2 separate regions of the Homo sapiens genome follow, and region 2 is linked to region 1. The links come from fine-mapping of genetic effects on gene expression. Tissue or cell type: whole blood. Region 1 holds a variant in brackets; the other region holds the start of a gene. All regions are shown on one strand. Distances are from middle to middle.

Evidence for each region. PIP is the estimated chance that this variant, and not a neighbour inherited with it, causes the effect.
Region 2: ANXA2R starts here. The variant in region 1 is fine-mapped to the expression of ANXA2R in whole blood (INTERVAL, PIP 0.95).

Annotation. Positions count from the first base shown.
Region 1 is chr5:43,085,757-43,094,103 of GRCh38, reverse strand. It overlaps LOC100506639 (a long non-coding RNA gene), which reads right to left. Exons shown (of 3, transcript NR_102752.1): 3 at 546-1,081. It overlaps LOC124900972 (a long non-coding RNA gene), which reads left to right. Exons shown (of 2, transcript XR_007058762.1): 2 at 1-1,919. Among named protein-coding and RNA genes, the nearest start is that of ANXA2R-OT1, 22 kb to the right of the region's middle. The variant AG/G (reference allele first, on the strand shown) is at 4,322.
Region 2 is chr5:43,037,166-43,045,165 of GRCh38, reverse strand. It overlaps ANXA2R (annexin A2 receptor), which reads left to right and starts at 4,847. Exons shown (of 1, transcript NM_001014279.3): 1 at 4,847-5,795. The coding sequence starts at 5,120. The coding sequence ends at 5,701. All of the region lies in intron 2 of ANXA2R-OT1 (ANXA2R overlapping transcript 1), which reads left to right. It overlaps ANXA2R-AS1 (ANXA2R antisense RNA 1), which reads right to left and starts at 3,032. Exons shown (of 2, transcript NR_015447.1): 1 at 1,599-3,032; 2 at 1-723. RefSeq lists enhancers at 350-849, 1,569-1,618, 1,426-1,961, 1,989-2,188, 2,269-2,478 and 7 more and a silencer at 4,584-4,853.

The sequences.
Region 1 (8,347 bases):
TGGGGGTGGTTTGCAGAGCTAGGACCTCAATTTTGGGTGGGGACCAGGATGCCAAACAAATCTCCAAATTGACCTCTGTCTAGGTTCCTGGATGCTGTTCCAGGTGTTGAAGAAGGGTCAACCTAGGATCAGTATGGTGGCTTATGCTGAACTGGGAAGATGCATGAGGAAGAAGCAGAGAGAACCAAGCAGTCACTTCGCAAGGCCAATTCTGGAAGAGCACATTTGGGGAAAATGGGCTTAAGTAGAGCCAGGAAAGTTCTAGTGGAAAGACAGGATTGGTCCAAATGAATTGAGTCTCCTAACTGGTGAGGCCAATTCTGGATGAGCAGATTTGTGAGAAATGGGCAAGGCCTTCCCTCTTCCAGGATATGTGGGTTTCCTTCATCACAGTGGCCACCACATGAATTTCTAGGATGAAGGGGTCAAAATCTCCTGGCAACCTTGAGCTTAAATTGTGTTTGTGTAACACCTTCCCTAAGGTTCCAATAAAATTACTAGGGGGTTTTACAGAGTGAAGTAGAAGGGACTGACAAAGACCCTCCTTGACCAAACCCTAGACACAGTCTCCTCACCCCTTTCCCACCTATGCTTGGACCTTGGACATTGCCTCAAGAGCCCAGTTTTAGCCAGCATCCCCTATCTTCAATATCTGATTCGCCCTCGATATCTGACCACATTCCTTATTCTCCAATTGATATCTGATCACCCTGGTCTGCCTATAGCAAGAATACTGTTAGGTCACTTTAGAAAAAATTAACGTATCCTTTTAGTAATTTTCCATTCACTAACCCCTGTCCTGCCCCACGTTCCATCCCTACCTCTCAGTCTTTGGCTGTAAATCCCTTATTTTCCTTGTATTAGGAGCTGATCCCAATCTCAATCCTCTACTGCAAAGTACACCTATGGCAATAATGCTGAATGAAGTCTGCTTTACCATCCTAACAACTGTGTTACATTTTTTCTTTAACAGAAATAAAGTATGTTTGTGCTTTTGAAGAGGTAGGAGACTTTCTGTCACCTAAGTCCCATATCCAGTCCTGAAGCCTCTTCTTGCCTCAGAGTTGTTAGGGCTGGTTTCCTGAGGAAATAAAAACATTTCACTCCAAAATCTATTTGTTTGACATACTTCATGATAGTGGTTCAGAGGGCCTGCAAACAGAAGTAGTCCTAAAAACTGTGTTTTATGAGGGAGACCTTCATCTGTAGAGAAAACCTGTATTGATGTAGCCAGACTTAAGCCCCCATTCTTTCTGGTAACCTTAAATTGGTATATAAACATTCATACCCCATTGTTAGGGTAATCACTTGTGACTTTCCCCCAATGCATGCTAGTAAATTTCTATGCCATCTCCCCTAGTAATTGGCCTTTTGTCAGTTGATTTTTCATCAAACCTTCAGAGGAGGAAGGGAAATATTCCCTTAGCTTCTACAGTTTTGGTGCTGTCAGCAGGATCCCAAAGTCTCTTTGCTGTTCTGGAAACTGCAGTGAAGGGAACCTAGGACCTGACTAGATGGCAGAAAGGTAAGATTTTCTTACCAACCAGGCTCTCGGTCTCTCTCTGTGGAATCCAGTCAAGTGGATGGCAAAAATCACTGTATGTCTCTTTTTCCTCTGCAAAATTTTGATTAATAGGAGAAAAAAATTTGTGTGGCTAGTAGTGGGTCTAACAACTCTGATGTACTGTTTGGTATGAATATTCGTATTGTTTGGTCTTTCTCCTCCCAGAAACAGTTTTCTTCTTTGTCTTTTTGTGTTGTTCTGTGATAAAGAAGGACACCATAGGGTGGAACATGGGCCTAAACCTCCTATAAGCCCGTTTTTCAAGCCAACCCTGAAAACTGGTCAGTTTTGATTGTGATCAGAGCAGCGTATAAACTTTGCTGTGGGTTTCCAAAATAAAAACTGGATGAGGTTCCCCTCTTGTCTTGTTTTATGTCCTTGAGCTTGACCTGTGACCAAGTGGGAGCACTCTCTGTCTCCATCATTTGGGTGGCATGATTTTTGGATCATGTCTGGTGGCCAGTCTGAAAATGGCTGGGAACCAGAGTCATATAAGATTTGAAGCAATACACTTTTTGTTCCAAATGTGTCAAGCTCTTGAGGTAGTTTGTCTTTAAAAGTCCCATCTCTACAGGGTTTTTGTTGCCTCAACCCTTGTTGCCTGGTTAGTGCTAGAAAAGTCCTATCCTAAAAGAGCCTACTTGGTGTCACAAATTAAGAGGTCTGTGACTGGTGATCCCCACAAATTTCTAAGTCACCAGAGGCACTGTATGCACAAACAGCATCCTTAACCATGTGTGGCAATAAGAATCTTTCTATCTTGGCCTATTCCTGGGAGTAAATTTTTGAGGGAGAGACTCTTTAGGATTGCCACTTCTATGCCTCTTCAAGAAACATCTTTTTCTTAAATGATAAAAACTTACATTAAACCTAGAAATTTATATCTTGGGTTTTCCAATGAAGAGGCTGTTGCATTGAATTAAGTATACCAGTGGAAATTCTAATTTCCAATGTCCAGACGATGGATCCTTTAAATTAGAAAGACTCCTAAACTCAAAAAACATTTTTAAAGATCTCTCATTCTCAACAATTGCCTTATTTGTATTTATAGGAAGATTACATTAAAAGAAAGACATACAATGGTGTCATGGCTAGCCTTAGAAATTCTCTTGACAAAATTAAAGAGCAAACCCCTAACTGAAAACAAAGTTAAAACCCTTTATGAGCTCAAACTCCTTACTTTGGATCCCATTCAAGATTCACTAAGTAGTCTGCTCCACCTTGTAGTTTAGATAAAATTCTCTGCTTTCACCAGAGTGGCCTGGGTTTGACTCCTGGGCAGGGAATCAGCCCCTTTTGGTTTGATAATCATGTGACTTTTTACTTTTGGGGGTACTCATTTGTTTTTCATCTTTTTCCTTTCCATGGACAGCTTTTGATTGTCTTCCATCTGTAAGGGCACATGGGGCTTTTTGGGCCTTTGTGATGGCCAGATGAGAAGCTGAGACCCTAGAGAGAATATAATCAGACAGATACAAATTATACCCCATTTGTGATTAGCAAAACTCTTACTTCTTTGAGCTATCTTTGAAGTTGGTTCTGGATCTTGTGAGTACTTCTTTGTGCCTCTTTGGAGACACCTCATGCATTCTTGGTTATGTAGGGTGTCTTTGGTTAAAAAGTTCAAAAGCCAGCAATGTTAGCTGTTTGTCTCAGCTAAAATCTGATAATAAGAAATTTTGAAAGATTTTTTTAATTAAAAAAGAGCTACATGGTCAGAAGTCAGCTTAATTAAAAGCTGATATTCAAGCCATATATATATATGAGAGACCCATACCAGTGGCCTAGACCAGTGGCCGTTGTGAGGACTGGGGACATGACCTGTGCCTCACTTTCCCTAGTCCAGCTGTGCCTCCTGGCCATGCTGAGAGAAATCAGGTCCTACAGAGACTGTCTTGAGAGCTCTTTCCTTTGTATTGGTCTCTACATCTGGTATATAACAGTTAAAATTACTTATTTCCTTGATTTTTCACTAAAAATCAGAGTTATTAAGCATTAATATTATAATTATTATGTATAATTAAAACTTCTAGGTTAGGCCAGGCATGGTGGCTCATGCCTGTAGTCCCAGCACTGTGGGAGGCTAAAGCTGGTAGATTGCTTTAGCCCAGGAGTTCAAGATGAGTCTGGGCAATATGGTGAAACCTTGTCTCTATGAAAAAAAAAAAATTTGCCAGGCATGGTGGCACATGCCTGTAGTCCCAGCTACTCAGGAGGCTGAAGTGAGAGGACTGCTTGAGCCCAGGAGGTCTAGGCTGCAGTGAACTATGATCATGCCACTGTACTCCAGCCTGGGCAACAGAGTAAGAGAGTAAGATCCTCTATTTCACAAAAAAAAAAAAAGGAAAAGAAAAGCCTTCTAGATACAAAAAATGCTTCTATATACAAAATATATACAACATACACAAAAACACTTCTATATGCAACATATACAAAAAAGATGTTTTAAATAAAGAAGATTGGCAAGGGCGCAGGGGCTCATGCCTGTAATCCCAGCAGTTTGGGAGGAGGAGGTGGGTGGATCACCTGAGGTCAGGAGTTCATGACCAGCCTGGCCAACATGGCGAAACCCTGTCTCTACTAAAAATACAAAAATTAGCTGGGTGTGGTGGCACGCTTCTGTAATCCCAGCTACTCAGGGGGCTGAGGCAGGAGAATCGCTTGATCCCGAGGGGCAGAGGTTGCAGTGAGCCGAGAACGTGTCATTGCACTCCAGCCTGGGTGACAGAGCAAGATTTAGTCTCAAAAAAAAAAAAA[AG/G]GTTATTAAAAAGACATAAAAATATAGTTGTTGGTAAGAAAAATGTTGTTCAGTTTTGAGGGTTTCGAGATGGGGTCTCATTCTGTTGCCTGGGCTGGACTGCAGTGGTGTTATCAGCTCACTATATAACCTCAAACTTCTGTGCTCAAGGGTTCCTCCTGCCTCAGCTTCCCAAGTAGCTGGGACTGTAGGTGCACACAACCATAATTGGGTAATTAAATATTTTTTTTTGTGGAGACGGGATCTCAGTTTATTACCCAAGCTGGTCTTGAACTCCTGGACTCAAGGGATCCTCCTGCCTCGGCCTCCCAAAGTGCTGGGATTACAGGTGTGAGCTGCCACACCTAGCTTAGTTTAGATGTTTGTTTTAAAGTTTTAAATTTTTAATAGTTAATAACAGATAAAACTAAATTTAAAAAATTATAAAAGGTTATAAAAGGTTTATACAAATCTTATCTTCTGTGGTCAAAACTAATTGAGGTTAGATAGACCTGTTCATAATTTTACTAAAATTAGCTTTAGCATTAATAATATACGGATATAGAGATACAAATTTTTTAACAAAATTTCCATATAAGAGATAACAAGCTCTCTAACAAGCCCTCTCCCCCTCCCCCTCCCCCTCCCCCTCCCTCTCGTCTCCCTCTCCGTCTCCCTCTCCCCGGTCTCCTTCCACGGTCTCCCTCTGATGCCGAGCCGAAGCTGGACTGTACTGCTGCGATCTCGGCTCACTGCAACCTCCCTGCCTGATTCTCCTGCCTCAGCCTGCTGAGTGCCTGCGATTGCAGGCGCGCGTCGCCACGCCTGACTGGTTTTCGTTTTTTTTTTGGTGGAGACGGGGTTTTGCTGTGTTGGCCGGGCTGGTCTCCAGCTCCTAACCGCGAGTGATCCGCCAGCCTCGGCCTCCCGAGGTGCCGGGATTGCAGACGGAGTCTCGTTCACTCAGTGCTCAATGGTGCCAAGGCTGGAGTGCAGTGGCGTGATCTCGGCTCGCTACAACCACCTCCCAGCCGCCTGCCTTGGCCTCCCAAAGAGCCGAGATTGCAGCCTCTGCCCGGCCGCCACCCCGTCTGGGAAGTGAGGAGCGTCTCTGCCTGGCCGCCCATCGTCTGGGATATGAGGAGCCCCTCTGCCTGGCTGCCCAGTCTGGAAAGTGAGGAGCGTCTCTGCCCGGCCGCCATCCCATCTAGGAAGCGAGGAGCGCCACTTCCCCGCCGCCATCCCATCTAGGAAGTGAGGAGCGTCTCTGCCCGGCCGCCCATCGTCTGAGAGGTGGGGAGCACCTCTGCCCCGCCGCCCTGTCTGGGATGTGAGGAGCGCCTCTGCCCGGCCGCCCCGTCTGAGAAGTGAGGAAACCCTCTGCCTGGCAACCGCCCCGTCTGAGAAGTGAGGAGCCCCTCCGTCCAGCAGCCACCCCGTCTGGGAAGTGAGGAGCGTCTCCGCCCAGCAGCCACCCCGTCCAGGAGGGAGGTGGGGGGGGTCAGCCCCCGCCCGGCCAGCCGCCCCGTCCGGGAGGTGAGGGGCTCCTCTGCCCGGCCGCCCCTACTGGGAAGTGAGGAGCCCCTCTGCCTGGCCAGTCGCCCCGTCCAGGAGGGAGGTGGGGGGGTCAGCCCCCCGCCCGGCCAGCCGCCCAGTCCGGGAGGGGGGAGGGGGGGTCAGCCCCCTGCCCGGCCAGCCGCCCCGTCCGGGAGGGAGGTGGGGGGATCAGCCCCCCGCCTGGCCAGCCGCCCCGTCCGGGAGGTGAGGGGCGCCTCTGCCCGGCCACCCCTACTGGGAAGTGAGGAGCCCCTCTGCCCGGCCAGCCGCCCCGTCCGGGAGGGAGGTGGGGGGGTCAGCCCCCCGCCCGGCCGGCCGCCCCGTCCGGGAGGTGAGGGGCGCCTCTGCCCGGCCGCCCCTACTGGGAAGTGAGGACCCCTCTGCCCGGCCAGCCGCCCCGTCCGGGAGGGAGGTGGGGGGATCAGCCCCCCGCCCGGCCAGCCGCCCAGTCCGGGAGGGAGGTGGGGGGTCAGCCCCTCGCCCGGCCAGCCGCCCCGTCCGGGAGGGAGGTGGGGGGATCAGCCCCCCGCCTGGCCAGCCGCCCCGTCCGGGAGGTGAGGGGCGCCTCTGCCCGGCCGCCCCTACTGGGAGGTGAGGAGCCCCTCTGCCCAGCCAGCCGCCCCGTCCGGGAGGGAGGTGGGGGGGTCAGCCCCCGCCCAGCCAGCCGCCCCGTCCGGGAGGGGGGAGGGGGAGTCAGCCCCCTGCCCGGCCAGCCGCCCCGTCCGGGAGGGAGGTGGGGGGGTCAGCCCCCCGCCCGGCCAGCCGCCCCGTCCGGGAGGGAGGTGGGGGGATCAGCCCCCCGCCTGGCCAGCCGCCCCGTCCGGGAGGTGAGGGGCGCCTCTGCCCGGCCGCCCCTACTGGGAAGTGAGGAGCCCCTCTGCCTGGCCAGCCGCCCCATCCGGGAGGGAGGCGGCGGGGGGGGTCGGCCAGCCGCCCCGTCCGGGAGGGAGGTGGAGGGGTCAGCCCCCCGCCCGGCCAGCCGCCCTATCCAGGAGGTGAGGGGCGCCTCTGCCCGGCCGCCCCTACTGGGAAGTGAGGAGCCCCTCTGCCTGGCCAGCCGCCCCGTCCGGGAGGGTGGTGGGGGGGTCAGCCCCCCGCCCGGCCAGCCGCCCCATCCGGGAGGTGAGGGGCGCTTCTGCCCGGCCGCCCCTACTGGGAAGTGAGGAGCCCCTCTGCCCGGCCACGACCCCGTCTGGGAGGTGTGCCCAGCGGCTCACTGGGGATGGGCCATGATGACAATGGCGGTTTTGTGGAATAGAAAGGCGGGAAGGGTGGGGAAAAAATTGAGAAATCGGATGGTTGCCGGGTCTGTGTGGATAGAAGTAGACATGGGAGACTTTTCATTTTGTTCTGTACTAAGAAAAATTCTTCTGCCTTGGGATCCTGTTGATCTGTGACCTTATCCCCAACCCTGTGCTCTCTGAAACATGTGCTGTGTCCACTCAGGGTTAAATGGATTAAGGGCGGTGCAAGATGTGCTTTGTTAAACAGATGCTTGAAGGCAGCATGCTCGTTAAGAGTCATCACCACTCCCTAATCTTAAGTACCCAGGGACACAAACACTGCGGAAGGCAGCAGGGTCCTCTGCCTAGGAAAACCAGAGACCTTTGTTCACTTGTTTATCTGCTGACCTTCCCTCCACTATTGTCCTATGACCCTGCCAAATCCCCTTCTGCGAGAAACACCCAAGAATGATCAATTAAAAAAAAAAAAAAACAAAACAAATATTTACGTATGATAATGAGAAGAACACTGTCCTAGATGGCTGAAATGCTAATAGTCTTTAATTCACTATTTTCTTATTCTGACTGTTGCAAAGATTTGTAGTTTTATTGATGATTCTCACTCATGTTCTAAAATAGGAGTTGGCAAACTATTGGCTGCCTGTGTTTATAAATAAAGTTTTCCTAGAACACAACAAAAAAAAAAAAAAAAAAAGAGATAACAAATGCAAGATTTTTTGTTCACCTTTTAAATACATTGCAAAAGAAAAAAGAGAGTTTGCCTCATGCTGTCTTTGTCTTTTTGACTGTTTAGAGAACTGAGTCTCCTCTCTATCAAAGAGTAAGGGTTTTTGCTTTTTGAAATCTTTGAATTATCACTTTGGCTAAATGAGTAACTTATTTGTGTAAGATAAGGATTACTTATGTGTAATTCTATTTTGATCCAGGGTTTGAAACCTTTCTTATTTTCCTATCAAGTGTTTTAAGCCTTTAATAGTTGACAAACTTCTCAAAATCAAATTTTATATTCTAAAATTAAGTCTTTTTGACCTGAAACTAACTTTTAATTTTGGTATATAAAAATCATATGGAAAACACTGTCAAATAGAAGTGGCATTTAACTTTGAGTTACATTTGCAGAAATGTGTTATTAATATGTGCTCCAAAATTGTATGAGATTCCTAAAATTATGATATGTCTTGGCCTATGTTATGATTCATATGATTATTGTGTTAAATTGTTATATGCCACAGAAATAAGCAAATT
Region 2 (8,000 bases), 49 kb after region 1:
CCAGGTTGATCCAGAAAAGGATGGAATTGGTTGCATGGTGTTTTCAGGATCCGATTGGGAGATGATGCGTTCGCGTGGGAACGCTCCTGGTAGGGTCTGTAAGCCTCTTAGGGGGATTACATCTGGATGTATAATTTTTTTTGGGAAATGTGAAAGCTTATGGGAAAAATACGTTTTACTTCCAAGCAGTGGCAGTTCCTTATTTCCTATGAGGAAGGAGTTTATAGCCCCACTCTTGACTGAAAAGTGTGAGAGACAATTCAAGCGCTTGAAAATTCACCTGTTTTGCATTTCCGGAAAGACAGAGAAAGCGTCAGTGATCCATTTCACAGATCAAGGGTATAGGAAAGTGGATGGCACTTTGAGATGTTCATTAGGTTTGGAGAGGGAGCAGACATCTGCCAGCAATCCCACCTCTTGTGCTGGAGTCTTGCAGTTCATTTTTCTCTCCTGCCCTCTTCCAAATCCTATGTCCAATATCAAGGATATCTGACAGTTAACCATCAGAATCAACGAGCGTTCCCACAGAGTTCCGTCCTGCAGGAGAGGTACCGGGACAGGGGCGGGAGACCTGAAGCTGCGATCAGAAAACGCTGTGCCTTTTACGCTCCTAAGGAACCTTAGACCGAGAGTTTCAAGTTTCAAAGGCAAGCAGTTGTTGGCCCCTCCTGTAGGATCCTGTGGGCTCTGGACCGGGAAGAGAGCCTGGCAGCGAGGGGTGACCTGGAAAAGCCCAGTCACAGAGGGTGGATGGCTGTTTCCTGCGTAGGAAGCTGTTGGCGACCAGAATGGTTTATACTTTGTTCCTGGGACCAACAGGATCTGCTTGGTTCTCGGCGCATAAGCCCACTACTCTCCCCCTGCGTAATGCACTGGGTGGAATGCAAGAACAATACAGACTTCCTGCGGGCCTCGGTGGCCCACGCCTGTGATCCCAGCACTTTGGGAGGCCCAGGCGGGCGAATCGCTTGAGCTCAGGAGTTCGAGACCAGCCTGGGCAACATAGCGAGACCGCCGTCACTAATATATATATATTTATATATATATATTTCATATATAATATATATTTTATATATAATATATATTTTATATATAATATATATTTTATATATAATATATATTTTATATTTTATATACTATATAAAATATATTATATATAATATATTATATATAATATATTATATATCTTATATATTATATATTATATATAATATATTTTATATATTATATACTATATTTTATATATTTTATATATTATATATAATATATTATATATTATATATTATATATAATATATTATATATATTATATATAATATATAATATATAATATATTATATATATTATATATAATATATTTTATATATAATATATATATTATATATTATATATATATTATATAATATATATATTATATAATATATATATTATATATAATATATAAATAAATATATATTTATATATTTTATATAATATATAAAAATATATATTTATATTTATATATTTATTTATATTATATATAAATATAAAATATATATTTTAATATATATATTTATATATATAAATATATATAAATTAGACGGGGGTGGTAGCACTCACCTGTGGTCTCGGCTACTCTAGAGGCTGAAGCGGGAGGATCGCTGGATCCCAGGAAGTCGAGGCTGCACTGAGCCAAGATGACACCACTGCACCAGCCTAGGCGACAGAGGAAAAAAGAAAAGAAAAAGACATCAGACTTCCCTAAGCCCGTGGGGGACAGAGTGGGTAGAGCCAGTAGCACTTTGGTGGCACCGAGCGCGCAGTTGGTCGGTCGCTGCACCGTTCCTTTCCCAGCGCCGGCTGTTTCTCACTGGCAACGCCACGCCTTTGTCAGCGTTATCGGACGCTCTCTGGCGGCAACCTTCTCACGGCCAAAAATTATCTTTTGCAACTGCACAGACATTTGCTACGGGCAGCTGATCGCTGGGTCCCAGCGCCGCTGGTTTCACAATTTCGCGGGTGCCCCCCACCATCCCCAGCCCGCAGCATAATCGGTGAAGGGAGCCTGCGGTTTCTCCGCCGCGCCTTCGCCCGTTGCGTCCTGCGAAGCCAGTGGAATCGGTGGTCACAAGGTTGGTTTCACCAAGTCGGGCGTTTCTTGGCACTGGCACCGCTCTGCGCTTTTGCTGGCCCAGGCCGGTCTCAGCACCGTTAGGTGCTCTCTAAAGGCGACTGTCTGTCGTGGTTAGGAAAGCTGCTATGGGACGACAGTTTTTTAGAAGTTTCTAGTCTAGCCCAGCTGGCGGTTTCTGGATCGCAGAACCACTGATTGCGCGGAGCTGGATGTACTTCTGTGGCCGCGCATGTTTCTCTGTGGTATCCCTACGGCTGTCGTCGAAATCGCGGTGTTTCTCTGGCCCCACCGCCACGTGGGCAACTTCTTCAGTGGCTGCGGGGTTCTCTCCACTGAGTTGCTGGTTTTGATCCACGCTTTCTCCCAGAGAGCAGACGAGACACTTTTCTGTTTGTGTCAACTGCTAGTCGTGCTGTGCACAGTTTCCTCGTCTCGGTGCGGGGCTTTCTCCATCCGAGGCCCTCTAGTGCCGGCTTCGCGGTCGCAGCACCCGGCGTTTCCGTTGGCTCTTTCGCCAGCGGCGCGAAGCCGGCGGTTTTGCTGTCACAGCACTTGCTGCACGGAGTTTCTCGGTAGCCGAACTTCTCTTTTTTTCTCAGAGTCGACGGTTTCTTGGTGACGGCACCGCTGGTTGCGCCAAAACAAATGTTGTCCTTGACAACCCCGCCGGCTGCATTCCCTTTCAGGCTCCTGGCACCGCCATTTCGGCGAGCCGTGGTCTCTTGTTCACAGCTCTGTGCCTCCATTTCTCGGTGGCGGCAGCCCTCAGGCCGCGGATCTGAGAGATTTAAAGTCGCAGCTGCCCCCGTTGCGCCGAGTCTGGCGTTGCCGGATGGGTGCTGCAGGGCTGGGCGGGGGGAGCCCGACGCTCCTTGGAGCCGGTGACAGGGGAGCTGCAGGGGCACAGTCTCTTCCCAGCGCCGCCGCACGGGTTCCGGCTCGGCCTCCAGAACGCAGTCCTGTGGCGGCGCCGCCGGCGTCTCTGTCGCAGGACCCCACGGTTTCGCGCGTCGTTGGCTTCTTAGTCCTAGCAAGTTTCGATTTCGCGGTGCCTGGGATTTCCACCCTCTGTCCAAGTAGGGGAATAGCCAAAATGTATTTTCTCAGCCCAAGCAAGTCCTGACTTAAGACAAACACCGGTCTAGCCCTGGCTGCGATATCTAGGCCGTAGGAACTCACCCGTTTCCCCATGCGAAGGCGAAGTTACCCTGTGACTCGTTGGTCAGCAGCTCCGGGTTTCCAGTGGCCTCGGATTTCTAATCATAACAACCATGGGGTCAGCCTAGCCTCAAGTTTCTTAGTCCTAGCAAGTTCCGGTTTCCTACTGGTAAGACTTGCTTTAGCTGCGCAGGAAATGTTTAACTCCTGTGGAAATCTGGGTACCAGCGAATGCTTTTTTTTTTTTTTTAAAGGTTTAGCGATGACCAGTTTAGCAGTGTTGGGAGCTCTTATACCAAGTTTGGTTTCGCAATATCGAGTCCTGTCTTAGCTATGCTTGTGTGTTTTTAAAACTCCCGTGGAAGTCAGGAAATGCCGGCGATCGCGATGTCTCAGTTTTACCAAGCTCCCTTTGACAATAGCAAGTCCTGCCCATCGAGACTTTTTCCTCTTGTAGACCAAATCGGGATGTACCAGCTACTACGATTTTTTAGACGTAGCTAAACACGTTTAACCGTGGATATTTTTGTTTTTTTTCTCGTAGGAAATTATGACAGGAGCAACCTGCAGGGGTTTAGATCTGACAGAAATATTCTAATGGTAGGCATTGCATCGCTTAGCCATATTTGTAATTTCTTCTTTGTAGGGTTGGTTCTCTGTAACTTTTGCTTACCTTAAAATTATTTTTGTGTCTTGCTCTGAGGACAATGTTACCGATGTGTTTTTCATTTTTACTTGCATTTCAGACTTTCATTATTTTAAATTATGTATTTTTTTTTTCTTCTAATTTTGAGCGTCTCAGATTCGTGCTTCTTGACTTTCATTCTCTCAGGAGCCGGGGAGCCGAGCTCGGTCTTAGCCTCGCTGGTATCAGGTTCCGGGTTCTGTCTGGAGGCTCCGCTTCCTATGCAGAGCTGGCGGTTTTGTATCAGCACGTTTGCCAGTGGCGCCCACTGGGCGTTTTCTCAGTTGCTGCACCCAACGTGACATTTCCCGTTCGCGGGGTCCTTAGGTTCTCAGTGCTGTCACTTTTTCGCTCCTACAACCGCTAGTATCTCCTAGGAACTTCCTGAACCCCGTTTTGCCGTGCAGAACGGTGATTGCACCGAGCCGCTGTTCGCACTAGTAATTGTGTGGTACCATTAGCCGGCGCTTTTTCTGTCACAACCCATTAAAACGGGTTAAAACATATTAAACCTATCAAACACATTGAACGGATTAAAACACATTAAATGCCGCAACACATTTTTCTGGTACAACACATTGAAACAGAGTTGGTTCATTCCTCCAAACAGGTTGTTTAGGTGTGGAAGCACCGCTCTTAGTTCTAAGAGCATGCTGTTTCTCTTTAGCAGCACCCTTTACGGCGCCAAAACGGATATTTGTTTGGCAATACCAGCGCTATCCGCTAGGTGCCGGCGCTTGCTAAGTTCAACGCGCCAGTTTCTCGTTTGCAAGGTGGTTAGGGCAGAGCCCTAGCAGACAGTTTTCCGGTGGCAGCAACGCTCATTTCCCGGAAACGGGTGGTTCTTGGCCCTTGCGCGCTCTTGAATACCTGCGTTCTGTAGCGCTAGTTCTCTTCAAGATTTGCTTAGTGTCATTTCATTTCGGTTTCTTTTCTCGCCATGTTTTTCTGTCGGAATTACGGTTCGTTTTGGTTCTATGTACTCTCTAAAATGTTATCGTTTTTCATTTGTCTACTAATTTTCGTGCATTTGTTACTACTGAGTTTCTTAATATCTGACTGGCCTCCGCCCACGGGCTCTGCAGAGCATAAATACTCAGGCTGATGGTAGTGCAGAGACTCTCCCTCCTTGATCAGCGCAAACGTTGGTCTGAGGCTTGAGGGATGGAGCAACATTTTCTTGGCTGTGTGAAGCGGGCTTGGGATTCCGCAGAGGTGGCGCCAGAGCCCCAGCCTCCACCTATTGTGAGTTCAGAAGATCGTGGGCCGTGGCCTCTTCCTTTGTATCCAGTACTAGGAGAGTACTCACTGGACAGCTGTGATTTGGGACTGCTTTCCAGCCCTTGCTGGCGGCTGCCCGGAGTCTACTGGCAAAACGGACTCTCTCCTGGAGTCCAGAGCACCTTGGAACCAAGTACAGCGAAGCCCACTGAGTTCAGTTGGCCGGGGACACAGAAGCAGCAAGAGGCACCCGTAGAAGAGGTGGGGCAGGCAGAGGAACCCGACAGACTCAGGCTCCAGCAGCTTCCCTGGAGCAGTCCTCTCCATCCCTGGGACAGACAGCAGGACACCGAGGTCTGTGACAGCGGGTGCCTTTTGGAACGCCGCCATCCTCCTGCCCTCCAGCCGTGGCGCCACCTCCCGGGTTTCTCAGACTGCCTGGAGTGGATTCTTCGCGTTGGTTTTGCCGCGTTCTCTGTACTCTGGGCGTGCTGTTCACGGATCTGTGGAGCTAAGCAGCCTTAGATAGCAGCAGAAGGCTTTTTGGATTCTCCTCCTTGAAAAGATTCTCAGTTACCAAACGTCTCCACCTAGAAAATAAAAATACATTAAGATGTGCTTTCATTGCTGGTTGTCAGTTTTTAAATTCTCTTTTTCCCTTATGTTTCTTTCTTGTTTCGCGTCGCTTATTACTTTCAGTTTCCTTGTATTTTAAATATTTGTATTTATTTCATTAAATATTTCATTCGTATCTGTTTTCACTTTGAGAAATCTATTTTACGATTGTAGAATTCTTAGAGTTTTTGGCAAATTTAAAATTTGTTTTTTTCCATTGTATTTTAAAATCTTATTCCTACTATTTTTCTAATTATTGCTTTTTAAATGTATTGTTTGTTTACATTTAATTTTATATCATGTCTTTTACGTTATTATAACGTCTTTTTAATTTTAATTGTTAATTTTATTTTTAACAGCGGTCTTTCTTTTTTTCAGTATATCGATTCATTGTTTTACACTCAGGAATTTTATTCACGATCATAAGACTGAGAGGTTTATCAATCTTTGCTATTTCTCGTGGAAGGACCACGCAATTACTTATATTAATACAACTTCACAGATGACCAGTTCTTAAGATTACTTATTCTGGCGGGGCAGCGTGGCTCACGGCAGTAATCCCAGCACTTTCAGCAGCGGAGGCATGCGGATTGCTTGAGCTCAGGAGTTTGAGAAAAGCCTGGGCGACAGGGTGAGGCCTGTGTCTACAAAAAATGCAAAAGTTAGCCCTGTGAGATGGTGTGCACCTGTAGTCCCAGCTGCTCCGGAGGCTGGGGTGGGCGGGTTGCTTGAGCTCAGGAGGTCGAGGCTGCGGTGAGCCGGATAGCACCAACGCCCTCCAGCAGAGCGAGAGCCTGTCTCAAAATAAATAAATAATTGAAAAGACTACTTATTCATGGGTCTCAGGGCTAGCAGTGTTTCCAGCGTCTTTTTCTTTGGAACAGTTTAGCTTGGCTTATAAGAGAACTACCAGTTACTTAATGGTACCACAACTGGGTTTAGCAATTCGGGTAGGCACAGCAGGTCCGGCTTGGCCCTGCCTGCTTTGACTGCCTTTTCGGGAGTTTTAAACCTCCTACACTCGGAATGTAGCCCTGATTGTGGTTTCTCTGCATAGCAAGTTCGGACTTAAGCGGAATAAGTATCGGCTTATTTCGCCTGCGATAAAGATGCTTAATTCTGCGTTCGAAATATTCTGAGCGAGTCCTGGGTTAGGGATTTCTTAGAGTAACAAGTGCATGCTTCGATTTTAAGTGCCCCTGTGAATGTGATTTCTTAGCTCTTGCAAGTCCATATTTGGTCGCAACCAGTACTAGCATAGCCATGCCTGCGACTCCTTAGTCCCAGTAACTTTCGGTTTCATAATAACTTACCCTGCTTTACTTATGCCTGAGTTTTAAATATAGAAGTCCGGGCACGTAGGTGAAGAAGATATTTTAGGAGTAGCAAGTAGCGGTTTAGCAGTGTCTGCAGTCCCTTAGTTAGAAGTCCTGGTGAGACCGAGCAGATACTGATATAGGCCTGACAGCGATATTACCTCTGTGAAACCACATTGTTTAGAAGTGTTTGCATTTTCTTCTTTGTAGAGTCCATTTTTCCATGTTTTGCTTAGTTTTGAATTTTCATTTGATGAATCTTCCCAAATGTATTGTTTTTATTGTGTGTGCGTGTGTTTTTCAGCTAACTTGCCCTTTAAAAAAAAATTGTTCCTAATTTTTGTTTTGCTGACCCTCAGCTTTATGCTGTCTGGTTTGCGCTGGCCTGTAATTCCCGGAACTAAATATTCTATTCTTTTGGCCTAACTGGCCTTTCGTCGATGGCATTACTGCTAGTTTTGCCGCTCTAGGTGCTCCTCGGTGTTAGCACTGCCGGTTGCTTCTGTGAGGCTTGCTAGAGCCCAGGACGCTGAGGTGCTGGGTGACCCCGTTTCGGTGCAACCACTCCGAAGGTTCTCGGTTTATCCAGCTGTGTTTTGGAACAAATGCCAATTCTTCCTGGGAGCAAGTGTCTTTCAGTCGCGTTCCTGGCTGTTTTCTTCAAAAGCAGGCGTTTCTCCTGGTAGCACCGCTTGTTGGCGACGTCGGATTCTTTTCCGTGGCAGTACTGGTCGTTTCATGGAGTGGCCGGTTTCTCACTCGCACTGTGCCGGCTGGCAGTTATTCCGTGGAGGCGCAGCTCTCAGCCGCTTCCCTTGGTTCTCGGTGTCGGCTGTCCCTGTACCTGCGTTTGTGGCGGTATTTCTGTCACAATCGAGTCTGTGTTTTTTCGA